Homo sapiens: one gene and its partners. The protein of the gene in region 4 interacts with the protein of the main gene of each other region in a pairwise test. Each region holds a gene or a part of one and is shown on either strand. Other genes may lie near its edges.

Evidence for each region.
Region 1: the proteins of DOK6 (region 4) and LASP1 interact in binary tests that used the Homo sapiens proteins (3 or more experiments, as listed by UniProt).
Region 2: the proteins of DOK6 (region 4) and ABHD11 interact in binary tests that used the Homo sapiens proteins (3 or more experiments, as listed by UniProt).
Region 3: the proteins of DOK6 (region 4) and SLC30A6 interact in binary tests that used the Homo sapiens proteins (3 or more experiments, as listed by UniProt).

What each region holds. Positions count from the first base shown.
Region 1 is NC_000017.11:38,914,982-38,922,502, forward strand, and holds the end of LASP1 (LIM and SH3 domain protein 1), read left to right. Parts: exon of another isoform or gene 1-61; coding exon 62-165; intron 166-3,623; coding exon 3,624-3,797; 3' UTR 3,798-6,789; downstream 6,790-7,521. UniProt on the Homo sapiens protein: Plays an important role in the regulation of dynamic actin-based, cytoskeletal activities.
Region 2 is NC_000007.14:73,735,637-73,743,580, reverse strand, and holds ABHD11 (sn-1-specific diacylglycerol lipase ABHD11), read left to right. Parts: upstream 1-4,778; 5' UTR 4,779-4,783; coding exon of another isoform or gene 4,784-4,810; coding exon 4,811-4,935; intron 4,936-5,117; coding exon 5,118-5,253; intron 5,254-5,438; coding exon of another isoform or gene 5,439-5,845; coding exon 5,846-6,019; intron 6,020-6,189; coding exon 6,190-6,360; exon of another isoform or gene 6,361-6,470; coding exon 6,471-6,652; intron 6,653-6,889; coding exon 6,890-7,022; 3' UTR 7,023-7,487; downstream 7,488-7,944. UniProt on the Homo sapiens protein: Catalyzes the hydrolysis of diacylglycerol in vitro and may function as a key regulator in lipid metabolism, namely by regulating the intracellular levels of diacylglycerol. 1,2-diacyl-sn-glycerols are the preferred substrate over 1,3-diacyl-sn-glycerols.
Region 3 is NC_000002.12:32,189,606-32,197,126, forward strand, and holds part of SLC30A6 (zinc transporter 6), read left to right. Parts: intron 1-2,730; coding exon 2,731-2,811; intron 2,812-3,312; coding exon 3,313-3,348; intron 3,349-4,283; coding exon 4,284-4,378; intron 4,379-7,521. UniProt on the Homo sapiens protein: Has probably no intrinsic transporter activity but together with SLC30A5 forms a functional zinc ion:proton antiporter heterodimer, mediating zinc entry into the lumen of organelles along the secretory pathway.
Region 4 is NC_000018.10:69,697,633-69,705,153, reverse strand, and holds part of DOK6 (docking protein 6), read right to left. Parts: intron 6,751-7,521; coding exon 6,561-6,750; intron 1-6,560. UniProt on the Homo sapiens protein: DOK proteins are enzymatically inert adaptor or scaffolding proteins. They provide a docking platform for the assembly of multimolecular signaling complexes. DOK6 promotes Ret-mediated neurite growth. May have a role in brain development and/or maintenance.

The DNA of each region.
Region 1 (7,521 bases), on a different chromosome or scaffold from region 4:
CTCTGGGAGGGGCTGGGTTTGGCAGGACAGTTTCCAAGCCCTGTCTCCTCCCATCTTCCAGTTTACCAGCAGCCCCAGCAGCAGCCGGTGGCCCAGTCCTATGGTGGCTACAAGGAGCCTGCAGCCCCAGTCTCCATACAGCGCAGCGCCCCAGGTGGTGGCGGGGTGAGTAACCCTGGCCGGAGGGGAGAGGCCAGAGGCAGGGGGTCCTTCGGGAAGGCTTGGACACAGCTCATGGATTCTCCTGACCTTTGCACCCACCCTCTGTTGTGTGTGATGATAAGGATCTCAGCCTTGTGAGCAGAGAGGAAATTGGTTGGCGTAGTGGGCAGAGGCTGGCTGGGACTGGGGCCCTGCGTTCCAGCCCTGGTGTACCATGGGCAGGTTGCTCACCCTGCTTTGGGTGGGGTTTCCTTACCCCAGCTACCTGGGAACACACAAGGCAACTTTCTGCATGGGGCCTTCCAGCACTGGGCGCTGCTCTCCTCGCTTCATGAGGATGGCCCCCACATCCTTCAGCTCTCAGGCTGCCCCTGCCTCTGAGGGGCCTCCCCAGCCATGTCGTGTAAAGCGCATCACCCTGATGCTTTGCATCACTCGACTCCGCTGGCTGCCTTCAGAGCACTTTTTCCAACTAAAAAGAGCTCTTCGTGTTGGTCACCTTCTCTGTGTCCCCTGCTGGGCTGGGGACCCTGGCAGCGTCCGTCTGGTTCACCTACTCTGAGCCAGGCCTAGAGCAAGTGAATAAGCCCAGCAGGAATGGGGTGAGATCAGGCTTCCTGAGCCCTCAGAGCTGAAGTCCCGGCTCTGTAAGTCCTGCCACTCACTCCACCCATGGGTGCCGCTGAGCCACCCTTACCAAGCTCCTGGCAGGCTCAGCGCCTCCAGGCTGGGTGCCTGGGAATTCAAAGTAGCTCACGTAGGAGCAGAACAGATACTTAGAGAGATAAAATCGCCTGAGATAATGGCTGGCTGGAGTCTGATGCTCTGGGCACACAAACAAAGGGATGTTAGGACTGCCCAGGGCACTGTGGGCGCAAGAGTTAGTCTGAAGTATAAGGTTCCAGGCAGCCCAGCCAGTCCCTCCCTCCTCAATGGGTCTGTCCTGGATGTGTAGGGTCCATCTCTGAATATAAAGCCACCTCTCTGCCCTCTGGGGGCTTACATTCCAGTCAGGGGGACAAACAAGAAAACAATAAGAAAATAGGTGTATAACATAAGGTCAGCGGTGACACGCTGTGAAGAGAAAGACAGCAGGGTGAGGGATGGATAGAAAGCAGCTGGATTAAGACATTTGGCCGGGGGTGGTGGCTCACGCCTGTAATCCCAGCACTTTGGGAGGCCAAGGCGGGCAGGTCACTTGAGGTCAGGAGTTCGAGATCAGCCTGGCCAACATGGTGAAACCCCCTGTCTACCAAAAATACAAAAATTAGCCAGGTGTGGTGGTGTATGCCTGTAACCTGTAATCCCAGCTACTCGGGAGGCTGAGGCAGTAGAATTGCTTGAACCCGAGAGGCAGAGGTTGCAGTGAGCCAAGATTGCACTATTGCACTCCAGCCTGGGTGACAGAGCAATATCTCCAAAGAAAAAAGACATTTGGCCGGGTGCGATGGCTCACACCTGTAATCCCAGCACTTTGGGAGGCCAAAGTGGGCAGATCACCTGAGGTCAGGAGTTCGAAACCAGCCTGGCCAACATGGTGAAACCCTGTCTCTACTAAAAATATAAAATTAGCTCGGCATGGTGGTGCATGTTCATAATCCCAGCTACTCGGGAGGCTGAGGCAGGAGAATTGCTTGAACCTGGGAGGTGGAGGTTGCAGTGAGCCGAGATCACGCCATTTGCACTCCAGCCTGGGCAGCAAGAGCAAAACTCCAGCTAGAAAAAAAAAAAGAAAAAAAAGACGTGACATTTGAGCAAAGTCCTCAATAAAGGAAGGAGTGAGCCGTGCAACGAGGACAGGAAGTGCAAAGGCTCTGAGGCAGGAATATTCTAGGAAAGTTCAGGGAGCAGCAGGAAGCCCGAATTGACTAGAGTGGGAGAGGGTGGGAGGTCCGATTATGCAGGGACTTGTGGGCCCCAGGAAGGCCTCTGTGACCTGTGATCTGTGCAGAGCGACATAGGTTTTTGGAAGACCACCCTGGCAGCTGTGTTGAGAAGAGGCAGTGGTTTGAGGGTAGAAGCAGGGAGACCGTCAGGAGGCTGTTGCAGGATATAGGCATGGATGGGAGTGGCTCAGCCCAAGATAGAGGCAGAATTGGTGATGAGAGAGACTGAGGTTACTTCATGGGAGGTGTGACTTCTTATCCCATAGACCTGTTGGTTTCAAACTGTCCTGTGGAGCCTCAGAGACCAGTCAAGGGCAGTGAAGGTCAGGGGAGGTAGAATGTTGTCTATAGCTATAGGATTTATTTTTCTTTTTTTTTTCCTCTTTCTTTTTTTAAACTCCATCCTGGTAGTAGGTGGCGCTGTAGGTTTTTGTGTGCCTTACTGAACATTACCTAGATCTAGGGCTTAAGCGGCAGATTTTGGCTGAGGCTTGGAAGGTGGAACCTGATAGACTCGTCTTCTGTCCTCTGAAGATTTTTCTCCCAAGGAAAGATCTTTGTCCTGAACTTGGACAGGACTCATCATGGCTTCTAAAAGAAACTACTGGTGCTTATAATCATACAAATAATAGCATACAGGGCATGTTTTTTCTGTTTTTTTTTTCTTTTTTGAGACAGGGTCTTGCTCTGCTGCCCAGGCTGGAGTGCAGCAGTGGTGCAATCACAGCTAGCTCACTGCAGCCTTAACCTCCTGGGTTGAAGCCATCCTCCCACCTCAGCCTCCTGAGTAGCTGAGACTACAGGCATGTACCACTAAGCCTAACTAATTTTTTATTTTTTGTTGAGATGGGCTCACGCTAGTACTTTGGGAGGCCGAGGCGAGCGGATCACTTGAGACCAGGAGTTTGAGACCATCGTAGCCAACATGATGAAACCCTGTCTCTACAAAAAAGTACAAAAATTAGCCGGGCATGGTGGTACACGCTTATAGTCCCAGCTACTTGGGAGGCTGAGGCAGGAGAATCGCTTGAACCCGGGAGGCGGATGTTGCAGTGAGCCAAGATCACACCATTGCACTCCAGCTTGGGTGACAAAGCAAGACTCCATCTCAAAAAAAAAAAAAAAAAGAGGGAGTTGGGGGGTCTTACTGTGTTTCCCAGGCTGATTTCAAACTTCTGGGCTCAAGCAGTTCTCCTGCCTTGGCCTCCCACAGTGCTGGGATTACAGGCGTGAGCCACTGCACCTGGCCTGCATGTCGTATTTTTAGACATTACTCTGTCATCATGGCTGGTGGACCTTACTGCAGTCCTGTTCAGGGAGGTGGGGCAGAGCTGATGTGACCCGGTCCCTGCTCTGCCTCTGGCCCTTAGTAGCTGCCAAAGGTTGTAAAAGATCGATTGCTCTCAGAAAGCAAGACACAGAGGTTAAGAATCTTTGCAGCAGAGCCTGGTGCTCCATTTCTGAGTTCACTGCTCCCCCAGGCTCTGCTCCAGGGTCGTGGAGAGTTAGAAAAAAATGCTCAGACCCAGGTGAGCCGGCATGCAGGGCCCTAGGCTGACCACACTTCCCCCACAGAAGCGGTACCGCGCGGTGTATGACTACAGCGCCGCCGACGAGGACGAGGTCTCCTTCCAGGACGGGGACACCATCGTCAACGTGCAGCAGATCGACGACGGCTGGATGTACGGGACGGTGGAGCGCACCGGCGACACGGGGATGCTGCCGGCCAACTACGTGGAGGCCATCTGAACCCGCAGCGCCCCCATCTGTCTTCAGCACATTCCACGGCATCGCATCCGTCCTGGGCGTGACCCGTCCATTCTTCAGTGTCTCTGTTTTTTAAAACCTGCGACAGCTTGTGATTCCTACCCCTCTTCCAGCTTCTTTTGCCAACTGAAGCCTTCTTCTGCCACTTCTGCGGGCTCCCTCCTCTGGCAGGCTTCCCCCTTGATCGACTTCTTGGTTTTCTCTCTGGATGGAACGGGCATGGGCCTCTCTGGGGGAGGCAGGGCTGGAATGGGAGACCTGTTGGCCTGTGGGCCTCACCTGCCCCTCTGTTCTCTCCCCTCACATCCTCCTGCCCAGCTCCTCACATACCCACACATTCCAGGGCTGGGGTGAGCCTGACTGCCAGGACCCCAGGTCAGGGGCTCCCTACATTCCCCAGAGTGGGATCCACTTCTTGGTTCCTGGGATGGCGATGGGGACTCTGCCGCTGTGTAGGGACCAGTGGGATGGGCTCTACCTCTCTTTCTCAAAGAGGGGGCTCTGCCCACCTGGGGTCTCTCTCCCTACCTCCCTCCTCAGGGGCAACAACAGGAGAATGGGGTTCCTGCTGTGGGGCGAATTCATCCCCTCCCCGCGCGTTCCTTCGCACACTGTGATTTTGCCCTCCTGCCCACGCAGACCTGCAGCGGGCAAAGAGCTCCCGAGGAAGCACAGCTTGGGTCAGGTTCTTGCCTTTCTTAATTTTAGGGACAGCTACCGGAAGGAGGGGAACAAGGAGTTCTCTTCCGCAGCCCCTTTCCCCACGCCCACCCCCAGTCTCCAGGGACCCTTGCCTGCCTCCTAGGCTGGAAGCCATGGTCCCGAAGTGTAGGGCAAGGGTGCCTCAGGACCTTTTGGTCTTCAGCCTCCCTCAGCCCCCAGGATCTGGGTTAGGTGGCCGCTCCTCCCTGCTCCTCATGGGAAGATGTCTCAGAGCCTTCCATGACCTCCCCTCCCCAGCCCAATGCCAAGTGGACTTGGAGCTGCACAAAGTCAGCAGGGACCACTAAATCTCCAAGACCTGGTGTGCGGAGGCAGGAGCATGTATGTCTGCAGGTGTCTGACACGCAAGTGTGTGAGTGTGAGTGTGAGAGATGGGGCGGGGGTGTGTCTGTAGGTGTCTCTGGGCCTGTGTGTGGGTGGGGTTATGTGAGGGTATGAAGAGCTGTCTTCCCCTGAGAGTTTCCTCAGAACCCACAGTGAGAGGGGAGGGCTCCTGGGGCAGAGAAGTTCCTTAGGTTTTCTTTGGAATGAAATTCCTCCTTCCCCCCATCTCTGAGTGGAGGAAGCCCACCAATCTGCCCTTTGCAGTGTGCAGGGTGGAAGGTAAGAGGTTGGTGTGGAGTTGGGGCTGCCATAGGGTCTGCAGCCTGCTGGGGCTAAGCGGTGGAGGAAGGCTCTGTCACTCCAGGCATATGTTTCCCCATCTCTGTCTGGGGCTACAGAATAGGGTGGCAGAAGTGTCACCCTGTGGGTGTCTCCCTCGGGGGCTCTTCCCCTAGACCTCCCCCTCACTTACATAAAGCTCCCTTGAAGCAAGAAAGAGGGTCCCAGGGCTGCAAAACTGGAAGCACAGCCTCGGGGATGGGGAGGGAAAGACGGTGCTATATCCAGTTCCTGCTCTCTGCTCATGGGTGGCTGTGACAACCCTGGCCTCACTTGATTCATCTCTGGTTTTCTTGCCACCCTCTGGGAGTCCCCATCCCATTTTCATCCTGAGCCCAACCAGGCCCTGCCATTGGCCTCTTGTCCCTTGGCACACTTGTACCCACAGGTGAGGGGCAGGACCTGAAGGTATTGGCCTGTTCAACAATCAGTCATCATGGGTGTTTTTGTCAACTGCTTGTTAATTGATTTGGGGATGTTTGCCCCGAATGAGAGGTTGAGGAAAAGACTGTGGGTGGGGAGGCCCTGCCTGACCCATCCCTTTTCCTTTCTGGCCCCAGCCTAGGTGGAGGCAAGTGGAATATCTTATATTGGGCGATTTGGGGGCTCGGGGAGGCAGAGAATCTCTTGGGAGTCTTGGGTGGCGCTGGTGCATTCTGTTTCCTCTTGATCTCAAAGCACAATGTGGATTTGGGGACCAAAGGTCAGGGACACATCCCCTTAGAGGACCTGAGTTTGGGAGAGTGGTGAGTGGAAGGGAGGAGCAGCAAGAAGCAGCCTGTTTTCACTCAGCTTAATTCTCCTTCCCAGATAAGGCAAGCCAGTCATGGAATCTTGCTGCAGGCCCTCCCTCTACTCTTCCTGTCCTAAAAATAGGGGCCGTTTTCTTACACACCCCCAGAGAGAGGAGGGACTGTCACACTGGTGCTGAGTGACCGGGGGCTGCTGGGCGTCTGTTCTTTACCAAAACCATCCATCCCTAGAAGAGCACAGAGCCCTGAGGGGCTGGGCTGGGCTGGGCTGAGCCCCTGGTCTTCTCTACAGTTCACAGAGGTCTTTCAGCTCATTTAATCCCAGGAAAGAGGCATCAAAGCTAGAATGTGAATATAACTTTTGTGGACCAATACTAAGAATAACAAGAAGCCCAGTGGTGAGGAAAGTGCGTTCTCCCAGCACTGCCTCCTGTTTTCTCCCTCTCATGTCCCTCCAGGGAAAATGACTTTATTGCTTAATTTCTGCCTTTCCCCCCTCACACATGCACTTTTGGGCCTTTTTTTATAGCTGGAAAAAACAAAATACCACCCTACAAACCTGTATTTAAAAAGAAACAGAAATGACCACGTGAAATTTGCCTCTGTCCAAACATTTCATCCGTGTGTATGTGTATGTGTGTGAGTGTGTGAAGCCGCCAGTTCATCTTTTTATATGGGGTTGTTGTCTCATTTTGGTCTGTTTTGGTCCCCTCCCTCGTGGGCTTGTGCTCGGGATCAAACCTTTCTGGCCTGTTATGATTCTGAACATTTGACTTGAACCACAAGTGAATCTTTCTCCTGGTGACTCAAATAAAAGTATAATTTTTACCTGCGGACTTGGTTTCCTCTCTGGCTCTGAGCTGCTGTTGTGTGTGTCTGTGTGTGGGTGTGTGTCTCTAGCTGTAAGGTGCTGCTGTGTGTGTGTGTGTCTAGCTGTAAGGTGCCACTGTGTGTGTGTGTGTGTGTGTGTCCTGTCTGCTTGGGGGCACTGGCCTGTGGCCCTCCTGGGACCTCTGCTGCCCCTCGGGGAGAGAATGACTTGTCTGGATGCCAAGGGGGAGTTTGCTGCTGTCTGTCAGGCCCTTGGCCCCTACTTCCTCCTTGCTGAGAACTCCCCACCAACCTACTTCTGGCTTTCCACCCGCTCATTCCTCTCTGCCCAACTTGGTGATGCTCCCGGAAGCTTCCCTGAGCTCCGTCTCGTATTACTGTGTCACTTCCTCAGTGACATATCTGTCTCCCCACTAGCCAGAGCCCTTGGGGCAGGTGATGAGTCTAATTCATCTCTAAATCCCGGGTACCTGCCCAGGAGCGGTGCGGAGCTGTTGAATTAATGAATGAGCTTGGCTGGGGAGCAGTTCTAGCACTCTGCCGCTGCCAGGCAGAGAGCAGGAGCTCCACGCATTTGAGGAACGAGATGACAGGGCATTCCACAGTGGGACGGGACCTGGATAAAGCTGTCTGTAAGGTGGCCTGGCAACCCAAAGCACTATTCACAGTGCCTTCTGAATGTAATCTTTAATACACATCCCCTTTCTTCCTTCTTCCTCACAACCCTGTGAGAGAAG
Region 2 (7,944 bases), on a different chromosome or scaffold from region 4:
CTGCGTCTAGGAAGGTGCTTGGCGTGCAGTGAGAGGCTCTAATGGATCTGGGCTTGTTGAAGCAAGGCAGGAAGGAGCCAGTGTTCTCAAAGTGTTGGGTGAGTAGTAGGGGAGGCGCAGCCGGCAGCAGACCTGCAGGGATTACCATTCCCACATGGGAAAGGTTGCTGTGTGAGGATTAAACACAATAACGTATATGAAAATCCCGGCTGCTTAATACATCAACTCAGGTTCAAAATCTGGGAGGAGAGAAGCTGGGCTGATGTGGGGGTTGAGATGGGAGGAGGTTTCGAGCGGAGTCACATAGGGGCCCCCCAGGGACAGCCCCACGGGAAAGCTCCAGGGGTCTTTCGGGAAGCCCCGACTGGTGCCAGCACAGCTGACACTCCTGCCCCACCCGGCTGGCCAGCAGGAATTTGCCCCATGACCGCCCCTGGCAAGCTGCTGTCACCATGGCGACCGGCCACAAAACAAGCAGCCTGATTGTCCCTGCTCAGCGGGGCAGGTGAAACCCTGGCCACGTGACCGATACTGGGCCAGGTGCAGTTAAGGGACACCCGCCACCTCCCCTCCTTAACCCATTCAATGCCACCGCGCCACCTAGGCGCAGTGTCCCGGCCGCCTCAGGCCGCACCCCTTCGGCCCTTGGTCCCCACGGCCTGAAGGGTGGTGATGAAATACACGGAGCACTGCGTTAGGAGTCAGTGAAGGAAACAATCCGGGCTGTGCACTGGCTGAGTGACCTGGAGCTGGGTTACTTCGCCGTCCAAGCCTCTCTTTCCTCATCAGCAGAATAAGGACGGCACCCTCCCACTTCACAGGAAGCCTGGGAACACGGATGGGGCAGTGTACACTCGACCTCCAAAGAGCGATAGTCCATTTCACCTCCCACCTTCACCTCCACATGTCAGGGGCTCCGGAAGTCCTCCCCTCTGGCCTCCCCTAGAAGGAGGCCTTCGCCAACCAACAGCACGCTTCCTGGCCTGTTCCTAACAAGCTGAGAGGGCTGGGCAGCCCCCAGGATGACACCACCCCCAGATCCATTCCCAGGTAGCAACGACCCCTCCCCTGCCCCCACCACTTTCTCTGGAATGTTCAAGTGGAAACATCAAACCAACTGGTTTTTCTGCTTGCCTTCATCAGCCACCTGATCAGGGCTGGGGCCCAGGACTCTGAGTAAATATCTCAAGGCTGCTTCTGCCCCTAGATGTGGGGATCTTGGGCCAGGCTGAGATTACCTGGTGGAGGGTGGGGTGTATGGCAGGGATCAATTTGAAAGCACCTTTGAGGCCAGGCACAGTGGCTCATGCCTGTAATCCCAGCACTTTGGGAGGTCGAGGCAGGAGGATCACCTGAGGTCAGGAGTTTGAGATCAGCCTGCCCAACACGGTGAAACTCAGTCTCTACTAAAAATACAAAAATTAGCCGGGCATGGTGGCGCATACATGTAATCCCAGCTACTTGGGAGTCTGCAAAAGAGAATCGCTTGAACCCGGGAGGTAGAGGTTGCAGTGAGCTGAGATTGTCCCACTATACTCCAGCATAGGCAACAGAGAGACTCTCTCAAAACAAACAAACAAAAAAAAGCACCTTTGAAATACTATTGTTCTGAATCTTCAACCCCCACGCCCTTCACCCACCAACTCTAGAAAAACACCCACCAACTCTAGAAAAACACCCACCAACTCTAGAAAAACACTCTCCAAGGACCCCTCCCAGGCCTGGGACCAGCCCCCATACAGGGCTCAGATGTCCTCATCACTCCCCTAATTACTATGCGGGAAACATGATCACACCACCTGGTGTGCTTAGAGTCCTCGGTGACCTCAGCCCTCCTCAGATTGGAACCAAACACCTCAGGGTCCCATTAAGCAGGAGATGGAGCTTTACAGAGTTAGGACACATCCTCAGCTTGGCCAGCATGGTGAAATCCTGTCTCTGCCAAAAACAGAAAAAAATCAGCCAGGTGTGGTGATGCGCGCCTGTAGTCCCAGCTACTCGGGAGACTGAGGCATGAGAACTGCTTGAACCCGGGAGGCAGAGGTTGCAGTGAGCCAGGTTCCAGCCTCCATGACAGAGCCAGACCCTGTCTCAAAAAAAAAAAAAAATTAATGGCCAGGCGCAGTGGCTCACACCTGTAATCCCAGCATTTTGGGAGGCCGAGGCGGGCAGATCACCTGAGGTCGGGAGTTTGAACCAGCCTGACCAACGTGGAGAAACCCCGTCTCTACTAAAAATACAAAATTAGCCGGCGTAGTGGCGCATGCCTGTAATCCCAGCTACTCGGGAGGCTGAGGCAGGAGAGTCGCTTGAACCCAGTAGGTAGAGGTTGCGGTGAGCCAAGATCGCACCATTGCACTCCAGCCTGGGCAACAAGAGCAAAACTCCGTCTCAAAATATAATAGTAATAATTAATTAATTAATTATTTTTTTAAAAAAAAAGTTAGGACTCATCCTGTAGGTCCTGGACCGCCCTAAGGAGGTGGGGGAGGGGTCAGTGTAAGACTAGCTGGCCCAGGTGTCATATCCGGGAGGGCCACTAACCCAGCCACCCGCAGGACTTCCACATAAGCATTTACCAGTGCCCTGAAGCTCTTGATGACTATTACCACTTTGCACCAGATGAACAAGACATAGCTCCCGCTGTGGACACACAGGGAGGGCTGCCTCTATAATACTACACAGTAGCCTCTGAGAAATGCTTCCAGAACATTCCATGAAAGAGATTAGTTTTAACTCAGAAAGTCTGCGAAGGCTTGAGGAGGAGGCAGCAGTTATACAATGCCTTAAAAGGCCTATAGCTGAGGCCAGGCATGGTGGAGCACACCTGTAATTCCAGCTACTCAGGGGGCTGAGGCAGGAGGATCAGTTGAGTCTGGGAGTTCCAGACCAGCCTGAAACTGTCCCCTTGCTATGCCTAGAACATAGTAAGACTCTATCTCTACAAAACAGAAAAAAATTAGCCAGACATGGTGGTGCACATCTGTGGTCCCAGCTACTCGGGAGGGTGAGGCAGGAAGATTGCCTGGGCCCAGGGGGAAGAGGTTGCAGTGAGCCGTGATTGTGCCACTGCAGTCCAGCCTGGGTGACGCAGTGAAACCCTGTCTCAGAAAAAATAAAATAAAAGCCATATACCTGAGACAGGAAGGTCGCTTGAGGCCAGGAGCTGGAGACCAGCTTGGGCAAGGTAGCAAGACCCCTTCTCTAAAAAAAATTTTGTTGGGCCAGGTGTGGTGGCTCATGCCTGTAATCTCAGCACTTTGAGCCCAGGAGTTCGAGACCAGCCTGGGCAACATAGCAAGCCCCCGCTTCTATTTTTTAAAAAAAAAATTTTTTTTTTGAGATGGAGTCTCGCTCTGTCACTGAGGCTGGAATGCAGTGGCAAGATCTCGGCTCACTGCAACCTCCATCTCCCAAGTTCACACGATTCTCCTGCCTCAGCCTCCCCAGTAGCTGGGATTACAGGGCCGTGCCACCACCCACGGCAATTTTTTTTTTTTTTAAACGGAGTCTGTCTCCGTCCGGTAGGCTGGTGTGCAGTGGCATGATTTCCGCCCATTGCAACCTCCGCCTCCTGAGTTCAAGCGACTCTCCTGCCTTAGCCTCCCGAGTAGCTGGGATTACAGGCACCCGCCACCACGCCCAGCTAATTTTTGTATTTTTAGTAAAGACGGGGTTCCACCATATTGGCCAGGGTGGTCTCCAACTCCTGGCCTCAGGTGATCTGCCCACCTCAGCCTCCCAAAGTGCCGGGATTACAGGCGTGAGCCACCGCACCCGGCCTAAAAAAAAAAATTGTAACCATGATTCAGTAAAAAAAAAAAAAAAAAAAAAAATGTTAAAATTAGTCTGCGCCTGTAGTCCCAGATTCTCGGGAGGCAAAGGCGGGAGGATCGCTTGAGCCCAGGAGGTCGAGGCTGCAGTGAGCTACGGTCGCGTCACTGCACTCCGGCCTGGGCGAGGGTAAGACCCCCACCAAAAAAAAGTATAGGACTCGGGCAACTGGCTATCTGGAAGACAGACAGCACCCCAGCAGGAGGTGGGGTGTGGAGAAGACCTTGAAAGGCAGGGTGCCTGATAGGGGAGTATGAGAATGGGGAGTATGGGCAGAAAAGCAGGTGGGATCAGACTGGGGGAGCCTTCCCCAAACGTAAAAGGGACGAAGGGGCTTGGGGAAGAGCTCTAGAGTGCCCCCGAGCTCCTTCTAGATCGACGACTCCAGGATGGGTGGGTGTCCGTGCTCCGCCCAACCTGCCCGGGCCCCCGGCAGTGGAGCACGGCGCCACCACACTGGCACTCCGCCGCCCAGAGCCACCCTGGCGCCGCTCGCCCCCGCCGGCGGCACAGAAACGATGGCAGCCACCCAGGTCAGTGAGCGATGGCAGGTGCGGGGCGGGAACCGAGCCCTAAGCTGCAACCAGAACCGAGCACGCACAGAGCGGCGCAGACCGAATTCCCAGATTCTACGCACCGCGGCGCTTCGCGAGGGGAGGGGCAAGCACCGCGGGTTGCCCAGCCTAGGGCGAGGCCAGGTGCGGCGCTCAGGGCGACCCGCGCAAAGCCTGCGGGGATTACGTAATGGCGTAAGGGGCGGGGATGGAGGCGGGGCCGGACTGTTCTCGGGGATACGTAAGGAAACGGGACCAAGGGCGGAGAATCCCGCGATGGGGGCGGGGAGAGGGCGGGGCTCAAGTCGGAACTGGGCGGGGCGGCTGAAGACGGAAATGGGCGGGGCTGCGAGCTAGGGCGGGAGAAGGAGCGCGGGGAGGACGTACCTTGTGAGATGCGAGCCGGCCAACAGCTTGCAAGCATGCTCCGCTGGACCCGAGCCTGGAGGCTCCCGCGTGAGGGACTCGGCCCCCACGGCCCTAGCTTCGCGAGGGTGCCTGTCGCACCCAGCAGCAGCAGCGGCGGCCGAGGGGGCGCCGAGCCGAGGTCAGTCAAGGGCACCGGGCGGGAGGCCATCCTCTGTCCTCCTTTTCCTGCCGGGCCCCGACGGCCCCATCTCCTCCCTTTGGGCCTGTCACCTCCCAGGCCTCTCCCCCAAAGCTCTTTCCCCCTACCCCTTTCCCCGTCTCCGCCGGCTCAGACTCTGACCTCGATCCTTCCCCTGCCAGGCCGCTTCCGCTTTCCTACAGGCTTCTGGACGGGGAGGCAGCCCTCCCGGCCGTCGTCTTTTTGCACGGGCTCTTCGGCAGCAAAACTAACTTCAACTCCATCGCCAAGATCTTGGCCCAGCAGACAGGCCGTAGGGTGAGCTTTCGAGTGGGCGGGGCTCCTTTGGGGCTGGGCGGGAGTGGGCGGGGCCTGAGAGGAGGCGGGGCAGGGGGGGTCCCGCTTCTCACGCTCACTTCCAGATCCCTCACTCTGAGTATGGACCCTGAACGGCAACCCCATTTATTCCCTCACGTTGCCATCTTCATTAATTCATGTTGTAGATCTCCATCGGGGCTGGCCCATGCCTAGGCGCCTGCACCCTTTCCATGAAGGGGCCTGCTTGTTCACTAGGGATGACCGGGAGCTCACCACCTCTTATGGCAGCCCATTCTTCTGTGCTCCTACTGTTGGAAATTCCTGGAGTCTCCTTCCTGGCATTCTCCGAGATTGCCACCCAGCCAGGCCAGCCCTTCAGAGACGTGGTCACAACCCTGGGGCCTGCTCTTCTCTGGCAGAGTGGCCCCAGGTTCTTCATCTGGGCCTCCTAGGTCTGGAAACTGGGCCCTTCCCCTCCACAGGGTGTATCCCCAGGCTCTCCACACCTTTGACCTGCTGTCCCTACAAGCCTTTGGCTGTCTACCCCCAGAATGGGGATATCAACGCAGCCCCGTCTCACCCCACTCCCCAGGTGCTGACGGTGGATGCTCGTAACCACGGTGACAGCCCCCACAGCCCAGACATGAGCTACGAGATCATGAGCCAGGACCTGCAGGACCTTCTGCCCCAGCTGGGCCTGGTGCCCTGCGTCGTCGTTGGCCACAGCATGGGAGGAAAGACAGCCATGCTGCTGGCACTACAGAGGGTGAGCCGCCCATGTCTGGGGCCTCCTCCCATTCAGTATATACCCTGAGGGCCCTGCAGGCAACCTGGGACTCACATGATCGTTGGATGACCAAGTTCAGGCTCCAGGAGCCATGCCTGAGACTCCCTATGTCTGCCTAAGACTGGTCCCAGTTCGGTTCTCTCCCACAGCCAGAGCTGGTGGAACGTCTCATTGCTGTAGATATCAGCCCAGTGGAAAGCACAGGTGTCTCCCACTTTGCAACCTATGTGGCAGCCATGAGGGCCATCAACATCGCAGATGAGCTGCCCCGCTCCCGTGCCCGAAAACTGGCGGATGAACAGCTCAGTTCTGTCATCCAGGTGATACACCCAAGGTGCCCCGGATGGTATTGTAGACCAGGACCTGTCAAGGGAAGAGTGGCACCCCCAGACCGCACAAGGAACCTCCCCCAACTGCTGCACCCCCACAGGACATGGCCGTGCGGCAGCACCTGCTCACTAACCTGGTAGAGGTAGACGGGCGCTTCGTGTGGAGGGTGAACTTGGATGCCCTGACCCAGCACCTAGACAAGATCTTGGCTTTCCCACAGAGGCAGGAGTCCTACCTCGGGCCAACACTCTTTCTCCTTGGTGGAAACTCCCAGTTCGTGCAGTAAGCTAGCCTGGGTAGTAGGAGGGGCATGCTTTACTCGCCCAGGCCCCAGCCTGGGGACCCTACCAGGGGAGGCCTTGGGTGTGGAAGGGGGGTGGCTGAGAGGCCAGAAATACCACCGGGCATATGGGCTCACACAGCTCTCTCCATTTCTCCCCGTTCTGCTTCCACGTGTCTCTTTCACTCCTCCTCATCCCACTTTCACCCGTTTTTGATGGCCGTCGCTGCGATGCACAGTCCCAGCCACCACCCTGAGATTATGCGGCTCTTCCCTCGGGCCCAGATGCAGACGGTGCCGAACGCTGGCCACTGGATCCACGCTGACCGCCCACAGGACTTCATAGCTGCCATCCGAGGCTTCCTGGTCTAAGAGTTGCTGGCAAGAAGATGGCCGGGCGTGGTGGCTCATGCCTGTAATTCCAGCACTTTGGGAGGCTAAGGCGGGAGGATGACTTGAGGCCAGGAGTTGGAGACCAGCCTGGCCAACATGGTGAAACCCTGTCTCTACTAAAAATACAAAAATTAGCCTGGCGTGGTGGTGCACACCTGTAATCCCAGCTACTCTGGAGGCTGAGGCAGGAGAATCACTTGAACCCTGGAGGCAGAGGTTGCAATGAGCCGAGATCACACCACTACACTCCAGCCTAGGCAACAGAGCAAGACTCTGTCTCAAAAAAAACAAAACAAAAAGGAGGCACAAAACCCCAGGCTTCAAGTCTCTGCAGCCTGCTCCACATTTGGGCACAGAAGGACTCAGACAGGCACTGTGTGGGCACGAGGTTTTACAGGGGTGGTCAGACCTCAGGCTTTAATGAATAAAGACACTACTCCCAAAGTCCTGGGCTGAGGTCTGTGTCACCACCAACGTCCCCGACCCAGGGAGAATCTGGATCGGGGGGTGCTGGCAGCTCCAGGGTCCACGTGGGCTCCCCGAGTACCCTTGGCCTCTCTCTGCAGCTGATTCTGGACCTGCTGCCACACCAGCTGCTGCACGTCCTCCTGTGGACAGGAGAGCAGGTTCAAGGCTGAGCCTGTGCCCTCTTTCCCCACACCTCCCAGGCCCTGATGGCATTCCCCTACCTCCCAGGCCTCCAGCTCCCGCCTCAGCCTCAGTTTCTCCTCCAGGACCTCCAGCAGCTGGGCCTCCATGGCGTGTAGCCTGGCTTTGCATCTCTGCAGCTCCGCCTCCACCGCCTGCTTCCTGTGGGTGGCAGAGAGAGTAGCTGAGGCTCGGACCCTGTGGGTCTGGTTGTGAGGTCCTGGGGGTGGACGAGTATGGCCACAGCCCCCGC
Region 3 (7,521 bases), on a different chromosome or scaffold from region 4:
TTTTTTTTTTTTTTTTTTTTTGAGGCAGAATCTAACTCTGTAGCCCATGTTGGAGTACAGTGGCATGATCATAGCTCATTGCAGCCTTCAACACCTGGGCTCAAGTGGCTCTCCTGCCTCAGCCTCCTGAGTTGCTAGGACTACAGGCACATCCCACCATGCCTGGCTAATTTTTAAAATATTTTTGGAGTCAGGGGTCTCACCATATTGCCCAGGCTGGTTTGAACTGGTTTCAAGCGATCCTCCCACACCCCGAGTAGCTGAAATTACAGGTGTGGAGCCACCGTGCCCAGCTGTTATTGTCTTTTTTCATAAAGGCCATTCTATGGTATGCAGTGGTATTTCATTGTGGTTTTAAGTTATTTTCCTTATGACTAATTGAGCACCTTTGCCTATGTTGATTAACCATTCAGATCACCTCTTTTTTAAAATGCTTGTAAAAATCTTTTAACCATTTCCTGTTTTTCTGTATTAATCTGTAACAGTTCTTTATATATAAGTATCTTCTCCTTCTTAGTTGCCCTTCTTTCTCTTAATGGTATCTTCTGATGAATAAAAGTTTTAAATTTTAGGCCGGGCGCGGTGGCTCACGCATGTAATCCTAGCACTTTGGGAGGGTGAGGTGGGCAGATCATTTGAGGTCAGGAGTTGGAAACCAGCCTGACCAACATGGTGAAACCCCATCTCTACTAAAAATACTAAAATTAGCCACACATGGTGGTGGGTGCCTGTAATCCCAGCTACTTGGGAGGCTGAGGCAGGAGAATCACTTGAGCCCAGGAAGCAGAGGTTGCAGTGAGCCAATATCGTGTCATTGCTCTCCAGCCTGGGCGACAGAGTGAGACTCCGTCTCAAAAAAAAAAAAAAAAGTTTTAAATTAAATTTATTTTTTTGGGTTGGTCCTTTTGTGTACTTGTTAAGAAATCTTGGCATACCCCCAGGTCAGAAAGACACTTTGTTCTGTTATCACCTAGAAGCCTTACTGTTTGATTTTTCATATTTAATCCTACAATCCAGTTGGAATAGATTTTTTTGGTATGGTGTGAAGCAGGAGTAAAGGCATATTCTGGACTGCAGTGGCGCAATTCGGCTCACTTCAACCTCCATCTCCCAGGTTCAAGCAATTCTCGTGCCTCAGCCTCCCAGGCAGCTGGGATTACAGGCCCGCACCACCACGCCCAGCTAATTTTTTGTATTTTTAGTAGAGACTGGGTTTCGCCATGTTAGCCAGGCTGGTCTTGAACTGGCCTCAAGTGATGTGCCTGCCTCGGCCTCACAAAGTGCTGGGATTGCATGTGTGAGTCACCGCGCCTGGCTCTTTACTGCTTTTATGTGCCACATTTTTCACAAATCAGTGGACTATATATGTGTAGGTCTGTTTCTAGATTCTCTTTTCTGTACAATTTGGTGTATTTGTACTTGGATTAGTACTGCACTATGTCAATTATTGCAGCTTTGAAATACCTATTGATATCTGGTAGTATAAATCTTCCAGCTTCGTTCTTCTTCAAGGTTATCTTTGCCTTCCTTCACATTTTGCAGTTCCATATGCATTTTAATATCAGCTTCTCACCTTCCACAAATAACATTGGTGCATTTGCATACTGTTTTTTCCTGTTCTTTTTTATTTTTTCAGTAGCTGGAAAACAACACTTAATTTGTATTCTATCATAACCTACTTTTTTCACTCACCTTTTTCCATGTCAATAAATACTTTTTTTGTTTAACAATATATAATGTTCTATTGTTGATTCCAGCATTTTTCCTTTACAAATAACAATGTGATGTACAGTCTTAATTTTTTTGTCTTTTCTGTGCCTCCGTGATTATTTTCTTGAAAAATTTTAAGCATTTATACTTACCATAAATATTGAATACCATTAGACCATGTGTTGCAGGAAAAACTAAAACAACAGTTCCTGGCCTCTGGCTTATAGTCTAGGGATTATAAAATATATTCATAATTCACTGTAATTATGTATAGAAATGAGAGGCAGTATAATAAGTGGTTAAAATCTGAATTCTAGTGTCAGAGTGTTTGAGTTTGAAAACCTTCTACTTGCTATCTATATGACTCTAAACAGTTACTTTTCTTCTTCGTGTCCTAAACTTCTTATCTGTTTGGGAAAAAAAAATGAGCCAAGTGTGGTGGCACATGCCTGTAGTCCCATCTACTCGGGAGGCTGAGCAGCTGGGAGGATTACTTGAGCCTGGGAGTTCAGGGTCCAGCCTGGGCAACATAGTGAGACCCCCATCTCTTGAAAAAAAGAAAAAAGTGGATAAAGTAATTCTAATAAGGGGTTGGGAGGTTTAGATGAGGTAATATGTTAAGCACTCTGGTGTCTAACGCACAGTGGGTCAATTAAGTGTTATTATTATGATTGTGATTATTTCTAGAAAATAAGGACTATAATTGGGTCCTGGTAATTGTCTTTTTTTTTTTTTTAATCATTTTAAAGTTTTTCTGGAAAGAGAAAGCCTCTGACATGGGCTGAAGGTGCTCTCTCTTCTGAGTCCTAGGAATTGTACAAATAGGTACTCCTTGGAATCTGTGATTTTCATTGTTTATTATTATTCTAGAAACCCTAATCTGCTCTAACAGTGTTGGGCTCATAGTAGACAGCACATATGTATATTAAGTGAGCAAATAAATGAATGTAAATGTGTTCTAGAGAGACTGGTTTGTGAATTGAAAGAATTGTGATGATCTAATTAATGTTTTGGTTTCAGGTTTGAAAGATTAGAAGTCCTGGCTGTATTTGCCTCCACAGTCTTGGCACAGTTGGGAGCTCTCTTTATATTAAAAGAAAGGTACATTTGTATAGGATATTATTCTAAATCCCCCCATGACACCTTTGGGAACATGAAAGAAACCCGTCAGACACATTTGCTTTCAAGGGTATGAAAACTTAGATGAGCAGGGCTGGAGTTTTGATAGTACACTTTCTTTATGTTTCAGACTTTTTCTTCTGTTTCATTTTTTTTACTTCCTTCCTTAATGCTACTAAATTGAATCAGAAGTGGTTGTGAATGAAACAGAGATTCAGTCAGGCATGTTTGATGCTTATTACAAACCCATTGAAATAGGCTTGGCAGAGAAAGATAGACATTACATATTAAGGATAATTTGTGAAAAAAGAAAACAACTAAAAAGGATAATTTATGAGTCTCCTTGCCTCATCACTGCTAATAGTTAATAGTTATAATATTAAAAGATTTTGTGAACTTTAAGGTGGGTGAATGATATATTTAATAAAGCTTTTTAACTTTATAATTTATAGGACTTATTTAATATATTTTTATTTCTTATAGTGCAGAACGCTTTTTGGAACAGCCCGAGATACACACGTGAGATTTTATTTTCAATATATAATTTACTATTGATTCTTAATTATTAATTGATGTATTATTAAACAGTTGGCCAATGTCAGATTTCAGACTGTGGCAACATAACGTTTTTGCTGGTATTTCACAAACAAAATTCCCTAATACTAAGACTCCGTTTCTTTACTCTTAACAGTTCCCAAGTTCTAAATATTTTTATACTACACAGGAAGGCCTTTCTATCTTGGCTTCAGGCTTCTCATTATTTCCAGGCCTAGGAAACACTAACCCAGCTTCCCCTAGTCTTCTGTAATTTCAAATTTGACCTTCAAAATCTTTGCATAGCACCTGTAGAAAAGAGAATTGGACGAGGCTCAGGGATTCAGTGTAATCCCAGCACTTTGGGAGGCTAAGGCAGGAGGATCGCTTGAGTTCAGGAGTTCAAGACCAACCTGGACAACAGAGTGAGACCCTGTCTCCAAAAAAAAGAAACGTATATATGTTTCATATATATTGCAACTATGTGATTTTCATATATATATGAAAAGAGAATTGTATGTATCATATATATGAAAAAACAATTGTATTTCTCAACCACAGAGCTGCCAACTATATGGACCTTATCTATTCTGATCAGTTTAATTCCACAAAGTCTGACTTGTCCAGTATATCGTAAAACAAATACCATTGATATTTATACAGATTTATAACAGCGTTTACCTGTAGCAAGATACTGTTAATGCTAAAAGTCCTTACTTATCCTTTGTAAGATGGAGCAACAGTAGATGGGACATGGGTGATGGGGCTAGTAACTAAGTTCAGATTCTGTATCTGGAAACACCAAATCATTAAAGCAGACCACTTTACCTTCCCACCTCTTAGTCCCTCTACGTATTGAAATTACATACTGATAATACCAAGAACAAATTAAAGGTGAATGTTATCGTTGTTCTTTTTAGGGGAAGATTATTAGTTGGTACTTTTGTGGCTCTTTGTTTCAACCTGTTCACGATGCTTTCTATTCGGAATAAACCTTTTGCTTATGTCTCAGAAGGTATGTTTTTTATTTACTATTAATTTAAAAATCCAACTAATCTCTCATAAAAACAAGCCTTTTGTTTGTTTCGTTCACTCAGATCAATGAAGAAGTATATTCTGAAGACAAGAGAGAACTAGCCCAAATGTTCTCAAGTCTTTTTTAAGTGGAAAATTATAAAACAAAATCTCATTAGTTCAAGCTTTAAAATAACAAATTATTTTAAAACAGGCAGGAGTGACCTGTAAATTAAATCATGTGGTGATGAAAAATTACATTTACCAAATAATGTGAGATTCTAAATGTGTAATCTATCTAAGAAAAGTCTATTGTAAGCATTTTAGAAGTATCAGTATACTTAGAATTCTTAGTTGATATGCTAATTGAAAATAATTGTATTCTGTTAATAAAGTAAGTTCCCAGGAACTTCTCTTTGGCAATGGTGGATGGGCATATATGTTTGCAAGTAGCCAAACTTTATTTCTTTGGAAATATTCTTTTATTTTGAAGTATTTACAACTTCAGACTGATTTTTCACTTTTGCAGTCTAAATTATTTTCTTTTTTCAATAATTTCAGTGTTTTGGAATCCCACTAACCCACAAAAGAGTTAGCCACTAAGAGATGGAGAAGTGAGGTGAAAATAGAAGTGGGATGTGTGCACAGACCCACACTTTGAAGTATAGAGAAGCACAGATAGGTGTGGATCTTTTTAGATCTCACTCTAGGATAGTCAAGAGAAGAAAGTTTTCTGAAATGCCCATTCAAGTTTAAACAACTTCATGAATGTTATGAAGATAAATTGTGTTTGTATGAGTTAAAGAAGTACTGCATGAATTAGAAAATTAAATAATGATAATTAAGATCACTAGAATTTCTTGAAAAAAATTCATAATTTATAAAATACTATAACACTTACTCTAGAAATTTTTAAGATGGTGCAAAGATTTAGAAACACTGTTTCCCTGTAAAGATCAGGGAGATACAAGAAGGAAATAAGACTACTGATAATCTTATGACCCACAGATAATATGTTAACATTTCTATGTTATTCCTTCCACTTTTTTGTATGCACACGTACATATAATTTTATGTGCTTACTTAGAATTGTATATATTACAGTTTTATGCCTGGCTTTTTTTTTTTTTTTTTTGAAACGGAGTCTCACTCTCTTGCCCAGGCTGGAGTGCAGTGGCGCAATCTTGGCTCACTGCAACCTCTGCCTCCTTGGTTCAAGGGGTTACAGGAATGTGCCACCATGCCTGGCTGATTTTTGTATTTTTAGCAGAGACGGGGTTTCCCCATGTTGGCCAGGCTGGTCTCACTCCTGACCTCAGGTGATCTGTCCACCTTGGCCTCCCAAAGTGCCGGGATTACAGGTGTGAGCCACTGCGTCCGGCCATGTCTGGCTTTTTGATTAGCATTATGTCTTCAGTATTGCTTCTCATTAAATACTCTTTGAATGTAAATGATTTTTTAATGTTTGCATAATATTGTTATGAATATTTTAAAATATTTTATACATTTCTAACTTTTCCTTTTATAAATAACTCTATAATCAGCCTCTTTAGATCAACTTCGTCTGCATTTTTTATTCTTTCTGTAGGATAAATTCCCCGAGAAGGAATTATTTACTGGATTAAAAATACAGTATTTTTCAAAGGCTTTGTTGTATATTGCCAAATTTATTTCCAGAAAAGTTATCTAGTTTATATTTTTATTATATTATATTATATTTATTTATTTATTTATTTTTTAATAGAGACAAAGTCTACCTGTGTTACCCAGGCTGGTCTCAAACTCCTGGGCTCAAGCAGTCCTCTCACATCAGCCTCCCAAAGTGCTGGGACGACAGGCGTGAGCCACTGCTCCCAGCCTACTTTATATTTTCATTAGCTGGAAATGGAGGTTCCCAGAAACATCAAGATTTGTGACATTAGCTGGGCTTGGTAGCATGTGCCTCTAGTCCCAGCTACTCAGGAGGCTGAGGTGGTTGTATTGCTTGAGTTCAGGAGTTTGAGTTCAGCCTGGGAAACATAGCAAGACTCTGGCTTTAAAAAAAAATGAAGGCTGGGTCTGGTGGCTCACACCTGTAATCCCAGCAGTTTGGGAGACCAAGTCAGGCGGATCACAAGGTCAGCAGTTTGAGACCGGCCTGGCCAACATGGCAAAACCCTGTCTCTACTAAAAAATTATAAAAATTAGCCGGGCATGGTGGCAGGCGCCTGTGATCCCAGCTACTTGGGAGGCTGAGGCAGGAGAATCCCTTGAACCCGGTAGGCGGAGGTTGCAGTGAGCCGAGATCACGTCATTGCACTCCTGCCTGGGTGACAAAAGTGAAACTCCATCTCAAAACAAAAAAAAAAGAAAAAAGATTTGTGAAATTACTTGAAATTTGAGTGGGAAATAATATTAAGTACTTTCTATATGCCAAGCACTGCTAAATACTTTACATAGAATAACCTATTTAATTCTAGCCAGGTAGGTACCCAGGTTCTCACCTGGCTTTTTTGAGAGTTGAGGGAATTAATTTGTATGTAGTTTGAATATCCCTTATCTGAAATGCTTGGGGCCAGAAGTGTTTCACATTTTAGATTGTCTTAGATTTCGGAGTGTTTGCATTATATGTATGGGTTGAGCATCCCAAACCTGAAAATTTAAAATTCGAAACGCTCCTATGAGCATTTCCTTTGAGTATCATGTTGGTGCTCAAAGTTGTGGATTTTTGGTTTTCAGATTTGGGATCCTCAGCCTGTACCTATGGCCCGTTCTCAGCACACTAGTTAGGAAGCTCTGCTTAAAAGTATAAAGAACTGCTGGGCATGGTGGCTCACACCTGTAATCCCAGCACTTTGGGAGGCCGAGGCAGGTGGATCACCTGAGGTCAGGAGTTCAAGACCAGCCTGACCAACATGGTGAAACCCCGTCTCTACTAAAAATAAAAAATTAGCCAGGTGTGGTGGCACGTGCCTGTAATCCCAGCCACATGGGAGGCTGAGGCAGGAGAATTGCTTGAACGCGGGAGACAGAGGTTGCAGTGAGCCGAGATGGCACCACTGCACTCCAGCCTGGGCAGAAAGAGCAAAACTCCATCTCAAAAGAAAAAGTGTAAAGAACCTTTAAAACCTTAAATTAATAGTAACAATGACATAAATTCCTTCA
Region 4 (7,521 bases):
TTTTCCCAACGTCCAGTTCGAATATGGACAAGGAGGATAATGATAAAGGAAAATCCTCCTGGAGGGCCGAGGGCAGAACCAAGTGGAATAGAGGATTGGCACGTTCTTCCCAAAGAGCAGAATGAGGGCCCAGCCACATATCCTTGTTAATTCTGGATAAAGACCCTGAAGATATCTGGCAAGCAGCAATTCAGAATTACCAGGACCAGTGACTGTTGCCTGCTTGCCTCCCAAACTTTCCCTTGAATGGGAGTGTTTGCAGGGGCAGGCATCCCACCTCTCTTAAGCCACTGTTCCTTGGGCCAGGGTGGGTAGAGGGGGGAAAAAAAGCATCTTTTTCTGGATCATTCTTTTGGAACTATAAGAAGTCATATCGGCCTAGCATGGTGGCTCACGCCTGTAATCCCAGCACTTTGGGAGGCCGAGGCAAGTGGATCACGAAGTCAGGAGATGGAGACCATCTTGGCTAACACGGTGAAACCCCGTCTCTAGTAAAAATACAAAAAAATTAGCTGGGCATGGTGGCGGGCGCCTGTAGTCCCAGCTACTCAGGAGTCTGAGGCAGGAGAATGGAGTGAACCCAGGAGGCGGAGCTTGCAGTGAGCCGAGATTGCGCCACTGCACTCCAGCCTGGGCGACAGAGCAAGGCTCCGTCTCCAAAAAAAAAAAAAAAAAAAAGTCATATCTGGACCTGATGTACACACTGCTACAAATCGCCTGCAGACTCTGGACTTTGAGCTATAATCAGTGGCTTGCTGGATTGCTTTTTGGATTGTTTCCCTTAAGGAACAATTGAGTGTGTAGGAAGAAGAGAGAAAAGGGATCTTCGCTCATCAGAAGATATGACTGTGGCAGAGACAATATACTTTCCAAATATTCCACATACTCCCTACTTGTCCCCTCGCAGATGTGGGGTGGGGGGGCTGTGGAGGCCACCTTCTGGGTGGTGGGCTATTAATAGAAATAACATGCATTACCACTGTACTAAAGTATTTAAATGTTTTGTATTAGCGCAGGCTGCCATAAGAAAAACATGACACAGAGTGGGTGACTTAAACAACGGAAATTAATTTTCTCACTCTGGAGGCTGGAGTCTGAGATCAGGGTGCCAGCATGGTTGGGTTCTGGTGAGGGCTTTCTTCCTGGTTTGGAAATGGTCACCTTCTTGAGGTCTTTCCTCCGCATGGCAGAGAAGAGGGACTGAGAGGTTTCTTTCTCCTTCTTATAAAGCCACCGATCCTATCAATCAGATTAGGACCCCACCCTTATTACTTCATTTAACTTTAATTCCATCTATAAAGGACCTATCATCTCTGGCTCTTGTCATAAAGATATAAGAAGTTTGGGGTTTAGGGTTTCAACATATGAATTTTGGGGAGAAACAATTGAGTCCATAGTATGCTTGTTGGAGAATGTTCCCACCTTCTTCCCCTGCTATGCATGGCAATGAGGTAGGTTAGCATGAAGATGTCTGAGTCACAAGATTGCAGCATCCTAGGTTTCTGAATCCAGGTGCCCTGGTGATCTGTCCAAGCCTGCATCAGGCATAGCTTGAGTGGGAAATAAATCTTTGTTGTATTGAGCTATTGAGAATGGGGGTTGACATCATTAATGTTTTTAAAATGATACAACTTAACCTATGTTCCTAATACACAACCCTCCTGGGATGTATTTTATTACAATTCCTATATTATATTGAAATCATTAGTTGATCTATCTTACCAAGTACACTATGTGCTCATTAAGGGAAGGGACTATGTGTTACCTATTTTTGTTTCTTTAGTTCTTACCATAGTGTTCGATAAATGAAATAAAGTAGCCCAGAGAATAAATGAGGTTTCTGGTGCCACAAAAAGATTTAAATCATAATATCTAATTGGGTTTTAATTACAAAGTATAGAGTAGCAAAGGCCTCCATGAAAAAAATTTGCATCAGGGATGTTTTCAATGTTTTAAAATCATAGGTCTATATAAACCCTTGCTTTAATTCCAAAGAGATAATGCCAAGACAAAGTGTTTAGGAACCTAGTGCCTTTTCCTTCTGTGTATCTAATCTGGTAAATCTCTTGCTATGATAATACCAGGTCTGCTTTTTTTTTTTCCCCCTCGGAGAGAGCATTAATTAAATGACTTAGGAAACTGTTTTTATTGAGAAATGGAGACTCTGATCTTAGTTATTGCTCAATTAAGTTTAAAGTTCAATACATTTTTATTGAACCCACACATACTTTAACGTGAATTGCTTTTTACTAATTGGTCTGTAGTAATCACAATGACAGTTTTGGTCGCCTTTTAGGCTTCTTTTATTCTCATTCAGAAAGTTCCTAAACTTCATTCATAGTCATTAAATCAAGAATGATTTCTGGAATCAAGAAGATAAAGTCAAGAGAGCTGTGAAGTTCTGGTTTGATCTCCTCCCATGATTTGTGAAACGTCACCACATTCACTCATAGGTTTCTGTATCCCAGGATATACCACCCCCAGCTGGCTTTATTCAAACAATGAAGCCATTCATTGATTAATTCCTTCATTCAACAGAAGCACATGTTTTTACATTTTAGTATTTCTGAAATTGGGGTATATTTTGTTATGACATCGTCTATGGAACAGCAGCCTCCAAATGATGGCTGCCAAGTGGTGGTAGTGATGTGGCTGCTGTTGCCTGTGTGTACAGGCTCAGGATTTCCTCACTTCAATTGAAGCTCTGTGCAATGTTGGCACTTCATGTCTTGTGTTTGACTATATTTTAGTTAATTGCAACTCTTCAATGTTTCAGTCAAGAAATGTTTTAGGACCATTTGAAAGAGAAACACGAGACCTTGTTGTCTAAAAACCTACTGTGTACACCTTCTGGTAGATAAACTTTGCACCAACAAGCATAAAAAACTTGCAGGACAGATATCAGTAGTTCAGAAGAAAATCTTAGAGTCCCAGCAGTACACTCTTTTATGAAGATATGTGTACCACTAACACTCTTGATGGCAAATCAAATGATATTTAAAAAAAAAAAAAAAAAAAACCAACCCAGAAGGGCATTGATAACTCTGGGTTAGTACAGAAATGTTGGAGTCCATATGTGAGAAATTCCTTAACTAACTTAGACCTTATAGTGTATATAACATAATTCATATTTATTATGTATTAATTATATTTTTATGCTTTTGTATCATATTTAAGAACTTTCTGTTTTATCTTTCCTCTTAACCACTTGGTTATGCATTAGAGAAAAGATTCTTTCTCTTTGCATCCCTGACCAACGAAGGTTTAGGAATAAATTAAGCCTACCTATGACATCACAGAATCCTTAATTGTATGACATATAACATTTGCTACCACTAACCACCTTTTCATAATAACTATATTGCAATATTTAAGTATTATTTTGCATTTCTAATTGTTAAAAATTAGTAACTGGGTTTTTCCCAGGTTTCTAAATGGAAGCAATATTATCAAAGTTAGTGAGACACATATTTTAAGCACCAATTTTCTACTAGTAAGCATCATGCTGAATATGGGTGCTTAGTTTTTGAAAAATAATTCATACAAAAGATCAGGGGTTCGCCTGAATTTTGGCCATGCAGGCATTTTCACTCATCTTGATTTTTGCTTACAATATTTATGAGGTAACATGAAGTAAAAATGTCAAGTCAGCAGTTAAATAAAGGAGTTTTGTCTTTCACAGGATAAAATTGTACATAATCATGAATCTTATCACTTCCTCTGAAGGTCTGGTATTTTTTTGTGATTATCTTGAGAAAATATGCTTGCATGGCAAATTGGTTGTTTCTACCTTTAAAATGCAAAGTTATGATCCTTATGGTAAAAGAGCAATTGCTCCGAGCTGATGTGAGACTATGAATACATCTCCTGGGCGCCATGCTGCGCTGAGGATGATTACCATGGAGAGTTTCCTGGTCCTTGTTCTCCTTCTGCCCCACACTAGGTGAGTGCTCCTTGAGACTTATGGCATATAATTATAATTACAAGGGTGACTGAAGGATGCTTCTCCAGAATAAACGATGTATATCCATTCCTACTGTTCATGTCTACATGTCAGTTTTACAGCAGAATTTAACAATGCATTTGAAAAAGTGTGTCAATGAAAAAAGTATTTTGACATATCCAATTGTATTATTTTCATATGTATTATTTGTACTAATACTACTATTAGTGCATATAGTAGTATAAATAAATAGCTAAAATTTATACCAAGTGATATGCCTTGGGCAATGAGCTAATAAAACCTAGAAAGTGTTGGCCTTTGGCTTTGGTTTGCTAGCATGACTGGCCATGCCTTACCTGCCAATCTGCCCTCTAAATTGTCCCCAGTCTCATCACCAGTGACCCCATCAGTCCAGACCCAGGGAACACAATGTCCCACTTTTATTTCTCTAGATCAAGTATGGACAAGACCTTCCCCCACTGGCTCATTTTAACAACAGTGAAGTCATCTGGAATTTACAAAACAGATGCACAAAATTATGGACAATTTCTCAGTCACTAAAGAGCAAATGACACCCAAAATTCAGAGAAGGAGAAACACACAAATGAACTGTGTCCAAAGGACAGATCTCTAATCTCAAAGACAAGGAAATAAACAGAGGGAAAAAAATAGATACCAAATTCCTCTATGAAATAGAAAGATCTTAAAAAACTAATGTGGACAGGTATAAATGGAGTGAAAATTCTGAATAACCATTCTTCATGAAAGAAAATGACTTGTTATTTAAAATTTTGAGTGGAAGTCTATTGAAACGTTGTAACAGACAAAATAGTTAAATTGTTTTCCATAGAAAGAGGAAGATAGGTATATCTAGAAGGATCCAAGGGAAGGGATCCTGGAGGTAGTGCTGGTAAATGATGCAAAAACGAAAACAAAACCCCAACCCCGACAAAACCTTAACAACAACATTCAATTCATATATATATATATATATGTATATATATGTAAAACTAACTGATATGGTTTGACTCTGTCCCCACCCAAATCTCATCTTGAATTGTAGCTCCCAAAATTCCCACGTGTTGTTGGAGTGACCCAGTGGGAGATAACTGAATCATGGGGGCAGTTCCTCCCATGCTGTTCTGATGGTAGTTAATAAGTCTCACGAGATCTGATGTTTTGATAAGGGGAAACCCCTTTCACTTGGCTTCATTCTCTTCTCTCGTCTGCTGCCATGTGAGATGTGTCTTTCTCCTTCTGCCATGACTGTGAGGCCTCCTTAGCCACGTGGGACTGTGAGTCCATTAAACCTCTTCCTTTGGTGAATTGCCCAGTCTTGGGTATGTCTTTATCAGCGTGTGAAAATGGATTAATATACTACCTTTTTAAAGCCAGTAAAAAAATAAGGTGCATCATAGATTTTAGGTCAGTGAATCTCTAAAACATGTCAACTCATTTTCATAGTCATAATTTTTAAAATAGTAAACATATCTTAAAAATATTCATTTTCTTATTAGAATTTGTATTTCCCAATGGCTATCGGAATGTGATTACACTATTGCACTCTCAATATCTAGGTAGACAGAAATAGTTGAACAAGCTCATAACTACTAAGTAAACACAGGATCTAATGCTTTTCAGAGAAATCAGTGTGGTAGAGACTTTAATATTACTGTAGTGCAAAAGGGCCCCAGACTGGTAAAATTACTCCAGCTCAGGTTTTTTGTTTGTTTTTTCCCTCCTTAAAATTTTAAGAGACATGGGACCTACCCTAGCTGGCTAGATAGATATTATTAGAATGTGACATTGAGTAAATATTTAGCAGTTTTTAAGAAGAAAGTTATAAACTTAAAAATATTATATCAAATGCAATAAAACTTCACTATAATTGCCTTATAAGGCCATGAATTCATTTTAAGAATGTGATAAATCATGTACCCTGGGTGAAGATGGAAGCATTAAACATCTCCTCATATAAAATCCCCAAACCTAAGTCTTATCTTGGATGTGTGACAATACTACAATGGGGTCATAGCATAAAGACAATGATTTGGTTGGTTGTAGTTTATGTCTAAATCCGTGTTTATTAATAATGATTGTGAATCAAGGATTCATTTCAGACCCTTATGGATTCCAACCATATGCTGTGATCAAGAAAGCAGTATATTTGCCTAAAAGCAATATTTAAATTTATTTAAAACTTTAAAAAAAGATTGTTTGCTTATTAAAAAACACTCACAAAAACAATGCAAGCAAGGACATGCTGCCTTTAATTTTATGGAGGTCCTTTTGCATACAGGCACACCGAAAATATAGTATTGTAATAATCTTGCAAAACATATTACATTATTAAAATAATTACAAAACCAGTTTGAGTTTGATGGTAGTGTAAGAAACTGAAATTATTTTGAATGGGGTAATTAGCCTGCCAAAAAACTAACAGAATTGTATTCATGTTATTAAGAATCTGAAGAAATTATGTATTTGGTAACTTTTACCCTGAATGAAAACAGTGCTCACTGGGGGCAATGATGGACAGCACTCTCTTTCAGGACTCTGTTATACAGACTCTGTTATACAGACAACTCCTGCACTTGGCTGCTGCACTAGATCTTACCTTCCTGACTCAAACGTGAACCACGTTGAGTCCCGACCGTATCTCCTCAGTGAGCTGAGAGGCCACATCACCAGTTTGACCTTGGCATTGTGGATATCCCAGAGATAGATATTTTCATGAGTGATCTGCATTGTGCATTCACCATAAATATCCAGGTTTGGTGTAGGCATAAGATACACGTTGAATCTCTCTGTGAAGAGACGAAGAATGGAGAAGGTTAAGTGAAAAGAGGTGTGAGTGTCTATGGCCATACGATATTAATTTGTTTATCTACAGACTGCAGGAAACATGACCACATCCTCCCTAGGTGATATGGATAAACATTGTAGAACATGACATATTTCAAAATTTGTATGAGAAAAGGAGTTCATTAAAGTGTTCTGAATCATTAATTCATTCATTCACTCAACGACTTTTCATTGCATGTATTGTCTATGGTGAGGATTAAGTAGTTAAATTGTACAATGGAAAAATAAGGGCAAAAGTTAAGGGAGTCTCTGCCCAAATTGTGCTTATGGTCTGTTCCTTCACACAATCTAAGTGGATATCACAGATACGATTCCAGCGAGGGATGTCTTATTTGCTCTCCTTAGGCAAGATCTTATTTGATTTTTACCTTTGTTGATGTGAAGTATTTAATGCACCCTCAGACTGACTCACTAACTACTTAAGCACTGGAAAAATCATTTAGTTTGTATCTCAAAACAAATTGTAGTCATGGTCAAATTTAGCATATGATAATTGCAGATATTCATTACAGCCTTCCGCAGAACTTAAGACATTGCTTTGGTAAGCAAAATAAAAATACTTAACTTTTTTCATTCCTGGATATCCTATGGCTGAAAATATTATTAGGCAATGATTCCAAACCTTACTTTGTAACTGTCTGTCTGTGTTTCTTAAAGGCTATTGCAAAGTTATGCTGCCTTTGATTCCCATTTAGATGCATTAAATAGATTTT